Homo sapiens: one gene and its partner. The protein of the gene in region 1 interacts with the protein of each later gene in a pairwise test. Each region holds a gene or a part of one and is shown in the gene's direction. Other genes may lie near its edges. The genes, in order: SNX11 and SMYD2.

Evidence for each region.
Region 2: the proteins of SNX11 (region 1) and SMYD2 interact in binary tests that used the Homo sapiens proteins (3 or more experiments, as listed by UniProt).

The regions. Positions count from the first base shown.
Region 1 is NC_000017.11:48,110,766-48,118,035, forward strand, and holds part of SNX11 (sorting nexin-11), read left to right. Parts: exon of another isoform or gene 1-2; intron 3-1,265; 5' UTR 1,266-1,278; coding exon 1,279-1,320; exon of another isoform or gene 1,321-1,328; coding exon of another isoform or gene 1,329-1,346; intron 1,347-1,808; coding exon 1,809-1,895; intron 1,896-2,535; coding exon 2,536-2,636; intron 2,637-7,270. UniProt on the Homo sapiens protein: Phosphoinositide-binding protein involved in protein sorting and membrane trafficking in endosomes. Regulates the levels of TRPV3 by promoting its trafficking from the cell membrane to lysosome for degradation.
Region 2 is NC_000001.11:214,312,038-214,319,307, forward strand, and holds part of SMYD2 (N-lysine methyltransferase SMYD2), read left to right. Parts: intron 1-2,724; coding exon 2,725-2,835; intron 2,836-6,041; coding exon 6,042-6,102; intron 6,103-6,821; coding exon 6,822-6,946; intron 6,947-7,270. UniProt on the Homo sapiens protein: Protein-lysine N-methyltransferase that methylates both histones and non-histone proteins, including p53/TP53 and RB1. Specifically trimethylates histone H3 'Lys-4' (H3K4me3) in vivo. The activity requires interaction with HSP90alpha.

The DNA.
Region 1 (7,270 bases):
AGGTAAATTGGAAAGGGAAATTAAACCTTATTGTTTCTCTCTTAAGAGAGAAGGGGGTGCAGGCGGCAGCCAGGGTGGATGCTGTTGGAATAGTTGTAGAAGTAACAAGATTAGTGCTGTATTTTAACAGAAGGTGACATCATGGGCCCCATTGGACTTGAGTAACCCCGTGCTGCAGCCTTCATGGTCCCCTTGTCGGAGTGGGTGATGTCGCTATACACGTGAACTGCCACATTGGGGAAAATCAGGGGCTGAGGCTTTAATGAATCTTTACAAAGGAGCAGAACGCATCCTGAGTCGACCTGTGCAGCTGTGGGGTGCTTGGACAGAAGTACAAACCGGATGGCATGTCAGGAGAGGAAGTAATTAGAACAATTGGCTCGGGTTCCAGAGTATGGATTGGATAAGGGGAAGGTCCCAACTGGGCAACCCACTCAGGTGCTCCTTGGAGTGCTCTAGCTCTATGATTCACCTGTGGGGAGTTGACTGGTTGTTAGTGAGACTGGGAGAAATGCAGAAGCATTGGTGTTTGTGGGGACTTGGTTGTCTCTAAACAGCCGGGAGGGGGTGCTGTTAGGCTCGCTTTCAAAGCTGTGATCTGGCAGGGCGTGGTGGCTCCCGCCTGTAATCCCAGCACTTTGGGAGGCCGAGGAGGGCGGATCACTTGAGGTCAGGAGTTCGAGACCAGCCTGACCAACATGGAGAAACCCCGTCTCTACTAAAAATACAAAATTAGCTGGGTGTGGTGGCACGTGCCTGTAATCCCAGCTACTCGGGAGACTGAGGCAGGAGAATTGCTTGAACCCAGGAGGCAGAGGTTGTGGTGAGCCGAGATTGTGCCATTGCACTCCAGCCTGGGCAACAAGAGTGAAACTCTGCCTCAAAAAAAAAAAAAAAATGCTGTGATGTGAGTGCTCACCAGACCCTGTTGTGCCTGCATTCTTCAAGGCAAAAGTTTTACATCTGGACCCGCCTGTTCTGGCTGCGTGTGACAAACTTTCTGTAGACTCCAACACGCTTTGGGGAGAGGTGGCCTAGTTGAGGGCCTGGTCTGAGAAGGGAGGCAAATCCCCCAGGGCCTTTTAGCTTGGCATTGAGCTAATGGGGATTTTTTTTTTGCTTCCTCTTAAGTTTTACAAGAACAAAAAGTGTTGCCTGGGTTTCCCCACGGGGGTCTATTAAAAACTTTCGGGGTTTTCCCTGGTAAAGAATGATAAGAACAGAGGCATACTAACCTTGATCCTGTATCCTCTGTCCCTCATCAGATGTTTCCTTCCAATGGGCTTTTGGTGTAGGATGTCGGAGAACCAAGAACAGGAGGTAAGAGTATGGTCTGCAGAGAACAGGTGGGTAAAAGTTGGAGAGGGGATTTAGGAGGAAAGAGGACATAGAGATGCAAATCATTAATTATTACCTGCAGTATTACTTTGGTGGTTCTGATGAGCTCAGAATAAAGTCAGGAGAAAGAAATCAACAGCAGAGGCATTCCTAGGAAATTGGGGTTCCATTCTGACTAAATTTTCCTTTGATTGGAATATACTGGAATGTAAGCTTCATGGGGGCAGGCACTTACGTCTCTTGTTCATGCTTTATCCCCAGTGCCTATAACAGTGTCTGACACGTAGTGGGGCTCAGTAAAAATTTGTTGAATTGAGTGACTGAATTGAGTGAATGAAAGTTGAATTGAATAAATGAAAGTTGGTGTTGAGTGAATGAAAGTTGGTGTTGGGTGGAAAAATCTAGCGACCTGTGTTGTCAGAGCTGCCTTGCTGTGTAGCTGAAGCTGAGGGAGCTTTTCTTACCTACAGGAGGTGATTACAGTGCGTGTTCAGGACCCCCGAGTGCAGAATGAGGGCTCCTGGAACTCTTATGTGGATTATAAGATATTCCTCCATGTGAGTACATCAAGCTTCTGTATTGGGGTCAGCGCTCTGCAGGGCTGAGGGGCTTGTACTGAGGTGTAACCTTTTTTTTTTTTTTTTGAGATGGAGTTTTGCTCTTGTTGCCCAGGCTGGAGTGCAGTGGTGTGATCTCGGCTTACTGCAACCTCCGCCTCCCAGGTTCAAGTGATTCTCCTGCCTCAGCCTCCCAAGTAGCTGGGATTACAGGCATGTGCCACCACGCCCAGCTAATTTTGAATATATATTTTTTTAGTAGAGATGGGGTTTCATCATGTTGGCCAGGCTGGTTTTGAACTCCTGACCTCAAGTGATCCACCCTCCTTGGCCTCCCAAAGTGCTGGGATTATAGGCGTGAGCCACCGTGCAGGTCAAGGTGTAACCTATTTTTGAGTGTTTCTGGTGGACCCGAGACAGAAGACTTAGAAGAAAGGGAGGGAGGAAAGGAAAGAGAGCTTGAGGTATGTCTTTGAGTTGCTTTTGGGCTGCCTGGTGGCACCTTGTTCTAGTTGGGGACCTGATCAGGTCTGTGGCCTGATGGCATGGCTCCTCAGTGAAAGCAATGATAGGGAGCTCATGTGAACTTGTCTATTTCCACTAAACCCTTTTCATGTACTTCATGTGCTTTCATGTATAGACCAACAGCAAAGCCTTTACTGCCAAGACTTCCTGTGTGCGGCGCCGCTACCGTGAGTTCGTGTGGCTGAGAAAGCAGCTACAGAGAAATGCTGGTTTGGTGTGAGTTTGCTCTTGCTTCCTTCTTGGGTCTGTGACTGGCTTTTTGGGTGCTTATGTAGGAACTGGAGTTGACAATGAAGAGAACTTGCAACATACCAGGCACTAAGGAAATTGGGAAATATGTTGTTTCTTTTTTTGTTTTTTGGGTTTTTTTTTTTTTTTGATGTAGGGTCTTGCTTTGTTACAGAGGCTGGAGTGCAGTGGTGCAATCATGGCTCACTGCAGCCTCAACCTCCTGGGTTCTAGCAATCCTCCCACCTCAGCTTCCCAAGTGGCTGGGACTACAGGTGCATGCCACCACACTTGCCTAATTTGGAAAATATTTTTGTAGAGATGGAGGTCTCCCTATGTTACTAGGGTGGTCTTGAACTCCTGGGCTCAAGCAGTCCTCCTGCCTTGGCCTTCCAAATTGTTGGGATTACAGGTGTGAGCCACCAGGCCCGGCTGGGAAATAATGTTTTTTTTTTTTTTGAGATGGAGTCTTGCTCTGTTGCCCAGGCTGGAGTGCAGTGGCATGATCTCATCTCACTGCAACCTCCACCTCCCAGGTTGAAGCAATTCTCTCTGCCTCAGCCTCCCAAGTAGCTGGGATTACAGGTGCCCACCACTATGCCTGCCTAATTTTTGTATTTTTAGTAGAGGTGGGGTTTGTCCATGTTGGCCAGGCTGGTCTCAAATTCCTGGACTCAAGTGATCCACCTGTCTCGGCCTCCCAAAGTGCTGGGATTACAGGCGTGAGCCACCACTCCTGGCTGGGAAATATGTTCTTTTTTTTTTTTTTTTGAGACTGAGTTTTGCTCTTGTTGCCTGGGTGCGATCTCGGCTCACCGCAACCTCCACCTCCCGGGTTCAAGAGGTTCTCCTGCCTCAGCCTCCTGAGTAGCTGGGATTACAGGCATGCGCCACCACTCCTGGCTAATTTTGTATTTTTAGTAGAGATGGGGTTTCTCCATGTTGGTCAGGCTGGTCTCGAACTCCTAACCTCAGGTGATCTGCCTGCCTTAGCCTCCCAAAGTTGCTAGGATTATAGGCGTGAGGCACCATGCCCAGGCCTTCTTTTTTTTTTTTTTTTTTGAGATGGAGTCTCGCTCTGTCGCCCAGGCTGGAGTGCAGTGGTACAATCTCGGCTTACTGCAACCTCCGCCTCCCGGGTTCAAGCAGTTCTCTGCCTCAGCCTCCCGAGTAGCTGGAATTACAGGGGGTTACCACCATGCCCAGCTAATGTTTTGTATTTTTAGTGGAGGTGGGGTTTTACCATCTTGGCCAGGCTGGGTTTTTTTTGCTTTTTTTTTTTTTTTTTGAGACAGAGTTTCACTTTGTTGCCCAGGCTGGAGTGCAGTGACACCCTCCACCTCCCAGGCTCAAGCAATTTTTGTGCCTCAGCCTTCCGAGTAGCTGGGATTACAGGCGCCTGCCACCACGCCTGGCTGACTATTTTGTATTTTAGTAGAGATGAGGTTTTACCACGTTGCCCAGGCTGGTGTCGAACTCCTGAGCTCAGGCAATCCACCCATCTCCACCTCCCAAAGTGCTAGGATTACAGGTGTGAGCCACTGCGCCCAGCCTGGGCAGGCTGGTCTTAAACTGACCTCATGATCCACCTGCCTTGGCCTTCCAAAGTGCTGGGATTACAGACGTGAGCCACCATGCTCCGCCTTTTTTCTTTTTTTTTTTTTTTGAGACGGAGTCTCACTCTGTTGCCCAGGCTGGAGTACAATGGTGTGATCTCGGCTCACTGCTACCTCAGCCTCCTGGGTTCAAGCGATTCTCCTGCCTCAGCTTCCCGAGTAGCTGGGATTACAGGTCCCTACCCCCACGCCCAGCTAATTTTTGTGTTTTTAGTAGTGACAGGGTTTTACCATGCTAGCCAGGCTGGTCTCGAACTCCCAACCTCAGGCAATCCGCCTGCCTCGGCCTCCCAAAGTGCTGGGATTACAGGCGTGAGCCACCGCACCCGGCCAGATATATGTTCTTAAATCATATTTTCAAGTCAGTGAAAAAAGTAGAATCTAATTTCGAGTATTTTTACCTAACAAAGCCATACTAACATCAAAAATATTTTTCTTTCTTTATATGCATATATGTCTAGAGCTCAACAAATATACAGCTAACATTTTAAACAGTTTAAATCTGCTTATCAGAAAATTTTAAGCACCTGGACTTATTTGACAGCTAGTGTTTCCATCCACTTCACATGTAAAAATAATGATTTTTTTTTCTCTTTTAATACAGAGGTCCTTTTCCAGAGACATATGAGAGCCTAGGGAAGGCAGTTATTATTTACTCCTCACACCCACCTGCCAAATAAGTCCTGAAAGTGGAGAGAATTACAACAGTGATTTTGCTGTAGGATGGTCACTGAATACTCAGTGGTGATAGGTGGCCTGTTGAGTGACCAAGTCAGTTAGTTAACATGTGGAACTGATGAGGCTGTTGTCCTGGGGCAGGCCCTAATAAACCAGGTGAAACTCCGTTCCCCTGACAAATCCTATATCCTCCAGCCTGGCCTGTTTTTTTTTTGTTTTGTTTTTCTTTTTCTTTCTTTTTTTTTTTTTTTGAGACAGAGCTTAGCTAAGTGAGCCTCTGCCGGTCGCGGTGGCTCACGCCCAGCACTTTGGGAGGCTGAGGCAGGTGGATCATGAGGTCAGGAGTTCAAGACCAGCCTGGCCAAGATGGTGAAACCCCATCTCTACTAAAAATACAAAAAACTAGCCGGGTGTGGTGGCAGGTGCCTGTAATCCCAGCTACTCAGGAGGCTGAGGCAGAGAATTGCTTGAACCTGGGAGGCAGAGGTTGCAGTGAGCTGAGATTGTGCCACTGCACTCCAGCCTGGTGACAGAGCGAGACTGTCTCAAAAACAACAACAACAACTACAAAAAAATGTGAGCCTCAGCAGCCTCAAACGCCTGGGGTCAAGGGATTCTCCCACTTCAGCCTCCCAAGTAGCTGGGACTACAGGTATGTGCCACCATGCTCAGCTAATTTTTGTATTTTTTGTAGAGAAAGGTCTCACTTTGTTGCCCAGGCTGGTCTCTCAAACTCCTTGGCCTCAAGTGATCCTCCTACCTCAGTCTCCCAAGTTGTTGGGATTACAGTTGTGAGCCACTGCGTCCCACTCCAGTTTCTTCCTTTTTAAAAATAATAGTTGATGGTGGGTGTGGATTTCTTTTTTCCTTTTTTTTTTTTTTTCTGAGGCGGAGTCTCGCTCTGTCACCCAGGCTAGAGTGTAGTGGTGCAATCTCGGCTCACTGCAACTCCCAGGTTCAAGGGATTCTTCTGCCTCAGCCTCCTGAGCAGTTGGGATTACAGGTGTACACCACCACGGCTGGCTAATTTTTGTATTTTTAGTAGAGTCGGGGTTTCACCATTTTGGTCAGGCTGGTCTCCAACTCCTGACCTCATGATCTACGTGCCTTGTCCTCCCAAAGTGCTGCTATTACAGGTGTGAGCCACTGCGCCCGGCCTTTTTTTTTTTTTTGAGATGGAGTCTTGCTCCTGTCTCATCCTGCAGGCTGGAGTGTTTGCAGTGGCACGATCTCGGCTCACTGCAACCTCCACCTCACAGGTTCAAGTGATTCTCCTTCCTCAGCCTCCTGAGTAGCTGGGATTACAGGGGTGCACCACCATGCCCTACTAATTTTCTTTTCTTTTCTCTTTTTTGTTTTTTTTTGAGATGGAGTTTCGCTCTTGTTGCCCAGGCTGGAGTGCAATGGCTTGATCTCAGCTCACCACAACCTCCGCCTCCCAGGTTTAAGTGATTCCCCTGCCTCAGCCTCCCGAGTAGCTGGGGATTACAGGCATGTGCCACCACGCCTGGCTAATTATGTATTTTTATTTTTATTTATTTATTTATTTAATTTTTTTTTTTTTGAGACAGAGTTTCACTCTTGTTGCCCAGGCTGGAGTGCAAGGGTACAATCTCAGCTCACTGCAAGCTCCGCCTCCCAGGTTCACGCCATTCTCCTGCCTCAGCCTCCCGAGTAGTTGGGACTACAGGCGCCCGCCACCACGCCCGGCTAGTTTTTTCTATTTTTTAGTTGAGATGGGGTTTCACCGTGTTAGCCAGGATGGTCTCGATTTTCTGACCTCGTGATCCCCACCCACCTCGGCCTCCCAAAGTGCTGGGATTACAGGCGTGAGCCACCGCGCCTGGCTGTTTTTTTTTTTTAAAGGAGAGATGAGGTTTCACCATGTCGCCCAAGCTGGTCTTGAACTCCTGAGCTCAAGTGATCTGCCCACCTCGGCCTCCCAAAGTGCCAGGATTACAGGCATGAACCATGGCACCAAGCTGGGAGTGGGTTTCATAAACAACATAGTGTGGCTCGGCTTGGTGGCTCACACATGTAATTCCAGTGCTTTGGGAGGTTAAGGAAGGAGGATCACTTGAGGCCAGGAGTTTGAGACCAGCCTGGGCAACAGAGCAATACTGTCTCTACAGATACATAAGTAAACAAATAAATAAATTAGGTGCACACAGTGGCACGTACCGGTAGTCATAGTTATTCTGGGAGGCTGATGCAGGAGGATTACTTCATCCCAGGAATTTGAGGCTGCGGCGAGCTATGCTCACGTTTATGCTACTGCACTCCAGCCTGGGCAACCTGGAGAGAGCAGCTTGGAAAGCAATACCTTGT
Region 2 (7,270 bases), on another chromosome or scaffold:
TGTTCCCACCTCTTCGCCTCATCACCATGCTCTCATTTTAGGCTTTGGCTAAAAACAGATTCTCTTCTCCCTTGTGCATATCTTGTCATTTCTTTTCCTCCCTGCTCTTAGTTATATTTGGCGCGGCATTATTTAACTCTGCAGAACATCTTGGCCCAGAACTTGAGCTAAGGGGCTGCACCATAGACTGCATTAAATCATTAAGTGACATTATGTGCTTCCTTCTTGGGGGATCAGTGTGGAGGGAAGCGGGTAGGGAGATATCTTCATTCCTTCAACAACTATATTGAGTGCCTACTAAATGCCAGGCACTGTTGTCAGTTCTGGGGTTACAGCTATGAACAAAACAAAATTTCTTTATTTTCCTGGGGAGAGACAGATACTAAACCAAACAACTAATAAATATATAATATGCTCAGGTGGTGAGAAGTACTAAGAAGCAGCAGAAAGCAAGGAAAGGAAGAATGATGGGGAAGTGCTCTTTCTGACAGGGTGATTGTGGCAGGTATCTTGAGAAGGTGACATTCCAGCAGCGGCTGGAGAGGAGGGAGGGAGTCACATGGATATCCAGGGGAGGAGAGTGCTAGCCACAAAACAGAGCAAGTGCGAAGGGCCTTGAGGCAGGTACATGGCTCCAGGCGCAGCCAGGACACTTCTGTGGCTAAGTGCAGTGAGGCAGGTGAGAGTACGGTGGGGGATGATGGGCTGGGGTGGTGCAGGGACGCTCCCATCACGTGTGGCCTCCTAGGTCACCTTTAGCGCTTGGCCTTTTGCCTGGATGAGAAAAGCCATTAGGTTTTGAGCTGAGGACTGGCCTGATCCGAGTTTTGTCAACAGAATCCCTCAGGCTGCTCTCTGGAACCTAGTCCATGGGAGCAAGGACAGAAGCGGGCATCCAGTTAGAAGGCAGTGGCAGGACATTAGTCATGAGAGATGTTGGGGCTGCAGCCGGGTAGAAAGGTTGTGGAGCTAAGAAGTGATCAGATTCCAGGCAGAGACAGAGGATTTGCCAGAACTGACTGAATGTGGAGTGTGAGTGAGAGAGCAGCGTCAAGGATGACTCTAGCTTTCTGGCCTGAGCATTTATTTTTATTTTTGAGACAGAATCTCACACTGTTGCCCAGGCTGGAGTGTAGCGGTGCACTCTCGGCTCACTGCAACCTCTGCCTCCTGGGTTCAAGCGATTCTCCTGCCTCAGCCTCCTGAGTAGCTGGGACTGCAGGCACATGCCACCACACTTGGCTAATTTTTTTATTTTTAGTAGAGATGGGGTTTTATCACGTTGGCCAGGCCAATCATAAACTCCTGACCTCGGGTGATCCGCCCATGTCAGCCTCCCTGCCCTGAGCATTTATGGCCATTTTCTGAGCTAGGGAAGGCCAAGGACAGAGCAGGACAGTACCCAATTCCATCGTGAAAGAGACAGTGTGTAAGGGCTTCCATCAGTATACAACGTGCTCTGATATTTCCCATCTAAAAAAAAAAAAAAGTCCCCCGCAACTTTTCACTACTCTAAGCTGTGTCTCCTTTCATTTTTTCTTGAATCTGCTCCCTGTCATTTCTTACCCCATCATCCCACCAAAACTTGTTTTTATGAAAATCATCAAGCTTCCATGATTCCAAATCACATTCTCCGTCCTCTCACACTAAGCCTATCTCCAGCACTGGCATCATCATTTACTCCCTAGTCCTCAAAGTACTTGCTTCCCTCAGCCTCCAAAACACCATGGTGTCCTTCTCTCAATGCCTTCCCCATCTCAAGTGATGGCGCCTCCACCCTTCCAGCAGCAAATATCCTTCATCCCTCTACCCGGGGCAGGGAAACTTCAGGGCGTATGATAGAAAGAATACTACTGTTAGGCCAGGCACGGTGGCTCACGCCTGTAATCCCTGCACTTTGGGAGGCCGAAGCAGGTGGATCATGAGGTTAAGAGATCAAGACTATCCTGGCCAACATCTTGAAACCCCGTCTCTACTAAAAATACAAAAATTAGCCGGGCGTAGTGGCACACACCTGTAATCTCAGCTACTCAGGAGGCTGAGGCAGGAGAATCACTTGAACCCGGGAGGCAGAGGTTGCAGTGAGTCGAGATCGCGCCACTGCACTGCAGCCTGGCAACAGAGCGAGACTCTGTCTCAAAAAAAAAAAAGGAAAGAAAGAATACTACTGTTTTATCCAGTGCATCTTTGGGAAGTCCTAACTATTCCTAAATCTTTCCAGTGGTTGCCCTTCATGAAACCCTCATTTGTGCTTTTTAAAAAGTCGCCTGTAAAAGGGACTCATTGCTGTGTAAGTCAACTCTCCATTATTTGCCCTGACGTGAGAACAAAGCCAGAGCGGAACTGTGAGGCAACAAAGCCAAATCAATGGCTGATACTCAAATTGCTCCCTCTGCAATTTGACAGCTTGCACAGATGATGGAAAGATGTATGTGTTGTTTAGAATAATGAGGGGCTGCAGAAAGCCATGAGGTGCTTGAGGAAAAAACACAAAGTAGATCTTCTCATCCCAACAAGCTTGACCCAGGCCTGAGTGAAGGTCATACAATCCTGCCTATCTTAAAGGATGTTTTTATCTCTAGCTTTTGTGAGCATCCTCGTGTTTTCCAAAAGGAAACATATTTTACTTGACCTTAACTAGGGGGACTCACTGCATCCTCTCCTCTCACACTTTATTCCAGTGTATGTGCTATTTTTTAATAATGTTTTTTTCAATCTTCCCAGAAAGAAGATTGGCCCATGCACAAGCTGGAATGTTCTCCCATGGTTGTTTTTGGGGAAAACTGGAATCCCTCGGAGACTGTAAGACTAACAGCAAGGATTCTGGCCAAACAGGTGAGGAAATGGGACAATGTTCAAGTGCATTTTATTTTGTTTTTCTTTTAAAGGTCAGAAAGATGAGTAACTGACCTTTGGTAACCATCTCTCGTTAAACATCCTTAGACTACATTTCCTATCATATCCATATGGACAGGGGTGGGGAAAATACTCCAGGCATAATCTAGTTAGTTGTGTGCCCTGTGCAATTAGGATGTTGCTTACCCTAGACCAGGAGCATAGCCACAGCTCTGAAATTCTGAGCTGTTTTCATGACAGGTTTACATGGAAATACGTGACATGAAAAGCCTGACCTCAAATAATTAGAGCTTCCTAGGGAACCAGATTGGTCTGAGCAGCTTTGAGATTTTCCTCTCTTTCCATTCTGACATAAAGAGTGTACTCTGTTCCCCTTTCCTGTGTAATATTCTGCTCTTTCTTGGCTCCTTTCTTGCCTGTGCATAGGCAGGCAAAGAATTGGATGGAACAGCCTTGACTATGACATGTGCAAAGAAGAGAAAGAGTGGAAAAGTAGAAATAGAGGCAAGGGAGAGGGGAAGAGAGTTAAAAAAAAAAAGTGAAGAAGAAGGAAAGAAAGAGGTGCCCTTGATGGAAACAGATGATAGTCATCAATGGCTTTCTCCAGAAGTGATGCCAACTCTGACTATTCTGTGGTGGGCAGGACTATGCAAACTTACGCTCAAAGAGTGAGGAAGCTGAGAGACAGAAGAAAGAAGCTGACAAATCCAGTTTATTAGAAACATTTACTAGGACTTATGAACTGAAGCCATGTCTATGTCTTGGGCGGCAGCAAGACAAGATGGTGGATCCCTGCACCATTACCCACCAGAGCCAGGGCTTATATACCATAGGGAAGAAATGTGTACAGCAGTTACAAGGAAAGGCAAGGATGCTATGCAAATCTGCCTGAGAGCAAGATTTGTGCTCAAGATTGTATTGACCTAAGGCAGGATTTAAGGTAGCCATAGACAAAGTAGAAATCTTAGAAGCATTCCCAGAGCAGGAGTTAACCAGAAATCAACATGGTATATCAGCATCCAAGATGAAATTGCTTTAGCCACCGTACTGACTGTTCTCCGCCTGGTCTGGTTCATTCTTGCTGATTGCATAATAATTAGACACCTAATCTTCGAAGGGCCAAACTAAAAAGAGGACAGGAAAATGCCATAGAACTTGTCCTTGTGATCCAATGAAATAGGCAGTGTGGGGCTTAGAAGGCATATGTCCAGGCTGTGGAGGTCTTGCTCCTCAGTGCTGTCAGAGAAGTTGGTGGCAGGGCCTCTGGACTATAAATCTTTTAAAGCTGAAATTTTGGCTGGGCATAGTGGCTCATACCTGTAATCTTAGCACTTTGGGAGGCCAAGGCAGAAGGATTGTTTGAATCCAGGAGTTCGAGACCAGCCTTGGCAACAAAGTGAGACCCATTCTCTATAATAAATTTTAAAAATTAAAAAAATTTCCCAGGTGTGGTGGTATACACCTGTGGTCCCAGCTATTCTGGAGGCTGAGGCAGGAGAATTACTGGAACCCGGAACTTCAAGGCTGCAGTGAGCTGTGATTGTGCCACCATACTCCATCCAGCCTGAGCAACAAAGTAAATGAGACTCTGTCTCTAAAAATGAAAAAAAAAAACAAACTGAAATTTCATCCACTTCTCCTGTATACCTACCAGCCCTCCTCCACCCTTAAAATTTTTCTATTTTTTAATCTAAGCCAAATGTGATGGAAATGATTAGCATGTATCTGTCCCCAGACCAAGTTAGGATCCTGGGCTGTGTAAACAGAAGTAGAACATTTCAAAACTCTGAGGTCATCCTTCAGCTATGTTCAGCTTGGGTCAGGTGCTTGCCGAAATGCTACCTCGCCAGCCAGCCGAGAGTAACAAAGGCCATTCATGGGTTGCCTGTAGAGTGAGACCAAAACATCAGAATTGTTTCCCTGCAGGAGGTTAACTTTCGGATCCTTAATAACAGTTATTTTTAAATTTATGCAGAGTATTTGGGCTGAATAAGTCAGAGGGAATAGGATGACTGGGTGTGAGGTATCAGAGTCAGTAAGTCATCAGATGGGATCTCCGCACATCTTGGGAGGATTGGGTGGCCAAGCTGGTGTTTTATTATTTTGTTCCCCTGAATTATTGATGATATTTATAGTGATATGTTAAGAATTCAGAAGAGGCTGGTAGACTTTCCTGAATGAAAAGCTTTCCCAAGCGAGATGACTTATAAATCTTATAAAAATGCATCCCGTGAATGGAAGATTTCTGCTCCAAAAAAGAACTATTGAAATATTTCGGCACCAGGAGGGTAGTCTGAATGCAAAGATGAGTTTATACAAGCTTCATTCAAGTTTTATTATAATTACTACTACTACTAATAGTGTATTAAATGAAAGTTACCTGCCCATCTTTTCATCTCTATAGGACTTGATGATTAAAAAAACAGACCATTTGTATTCTAGTAGCTTGCAAAGGATTAGGGGAGACAGGCTACCAAACTACCAAGGGGAGGCTTAACATGTTAACTAGGGAGGTGAGCGTGCCCTGCTAGACCACCTGTATCCCCAAATTGAATAGCCACATTACAAAGACATGGCCTTGGGCCAGCTCCTGAGCTCTGCCTTTGAACTCTTGTCAACACCAAGTTTATTCATGTTCTCAAAGCCTAGCGGGTTTACTATTGTTAGCTCCTCTTGGGGTGTCTAGAACAAAGCCAGCAACGCGTTTAAAGTGAATCTGGGCTCACAGATACAACCAAAAGTGTTCTTTTTGAAACACAGAATTTGAGATCATTTTAGCCTATGCTTAAAGAAAGTGTAAAATGGATGGGGGGTTTGATTTTGTTCCTTTTTAGAAGGAGAAATAATAAATAGGATGGTTTGTCTGTAGACCCAGTCCTTTTAAGTAAGGACCCTAAAAAGTTGTTTTCCGGCCCTGTTCTTTCCCGTAACAGGTATTTCTGAGCCTACTGTGTGCATAGTATTATCAGGGTGTTAGGTACACGGTAGACATTTAAAAAAGCGCTTTAGAAGAGTCTTTGGATTTGGCTGGTGGAGAGCCCTAGTGGTGGAGTCCTTGAGTAGCTTGTTTTACTTCCTTAAGAATTGTTACTTTTTCTTTATGTTGATGTAAAAGTGAAAGTGCCACTTTATTACACTGGTTGTTAAAAAATCTGTATCTGTGTGATTTCTTCCCCAATTGCTAGAAAATCCACCCAGAGAGAACACCTTCGGAAAAATTGTTAGCTGTGAAGGAGTTTGAATCACGTAAGTCTTTCTGTGACCAGCCGCGCAGTTCTCTCAGCCACAGATTTCACATGGGTTGGGCAGGATTGAAGCGAGGACGGGCTAGTTTGTGCTCAGAGGAGTAGTGATTTCTTTGATTACTAGTTTTTATTTTTACTCTTGTGCTGTTTCGAAAAGCACTTTTAGCTTTTTTCTTCTGAGTTGACAGGATTGTTAGGAAATAATTAAAGGAGGTAGGAGCTCCCAAAATGAATTATTGCACCCTGAGCTACCTCCTGCTGGCCCTCTTGGCATGCTGAATACTTTTGGATCTTTGCTGAATTGCGTCCTCTAAATAGCTGATGTTCTTACTGAAAGCCGTGAAATCAGGGGTTGTCCAGTTGTTTGACCACGGCCCAGATTCCCGGGCCAATTGGGGGGCCCTTGACTAGGCTGAGGCTGGTTATGAGTCATTGCTACCCATCCCTGACCTCATTGCTAACAGTCAGTCGAAATCTCACGTCCCAAGTGACTTCTAGTCATCAGAGGGAGAGAAGGAAGAAATGGCTTGCTTTCTTTCCTTAGGGTTTGTCAGTTAAACCAAGTAATGGGGAAGAATGTTCTCTGGGGGTTCAACATGTTAGTTTTGGGTTTTTTTTTTTTCGCCCGTTCCTTTCCTCTGTATCATTTACAGCAAAAATAGGATGTAGCTAGAAATCCCACGCTTTCTACTGGGTGAATAATGGATTATTTATCCACAGATCTGGATAAGTTAGACAATGAGAAGAAGGATTTGATTCAGAGTGACATAGCTGCTCTCCATCACTTTTACTCCAAGCATCTCGGATTCCCTGACAATGATAGCCTCGTAGTACTCTTTGCACAGGTAAGGACGCTGGCAGCAGGTAACACTCAGTCTGGCCTTTCCCTCTCCAAGGCCCTCTCCCTAGCAAGCACTCAGTGAAGATGAATGCAAATAGAATGATGGCATCTTCCTGACAACGAAGCTCTGAGCCAATTGGACCGTGTGTTGCCATAGCCTTGCTCAGTGACCTTGAGCAGATCAAGGTCCCCTCTGCTGGCCCTCATTGATGGGTGGAGTGTAGGAAATTCGCCTCTGCCTCTGCCTCACAAAGAGTTCATGAAAACAAAGGAGTTGTCAGTGCCCTGGTACTCTGGCATACTTTAAGCTCTTTGCAAAGAAAAGACC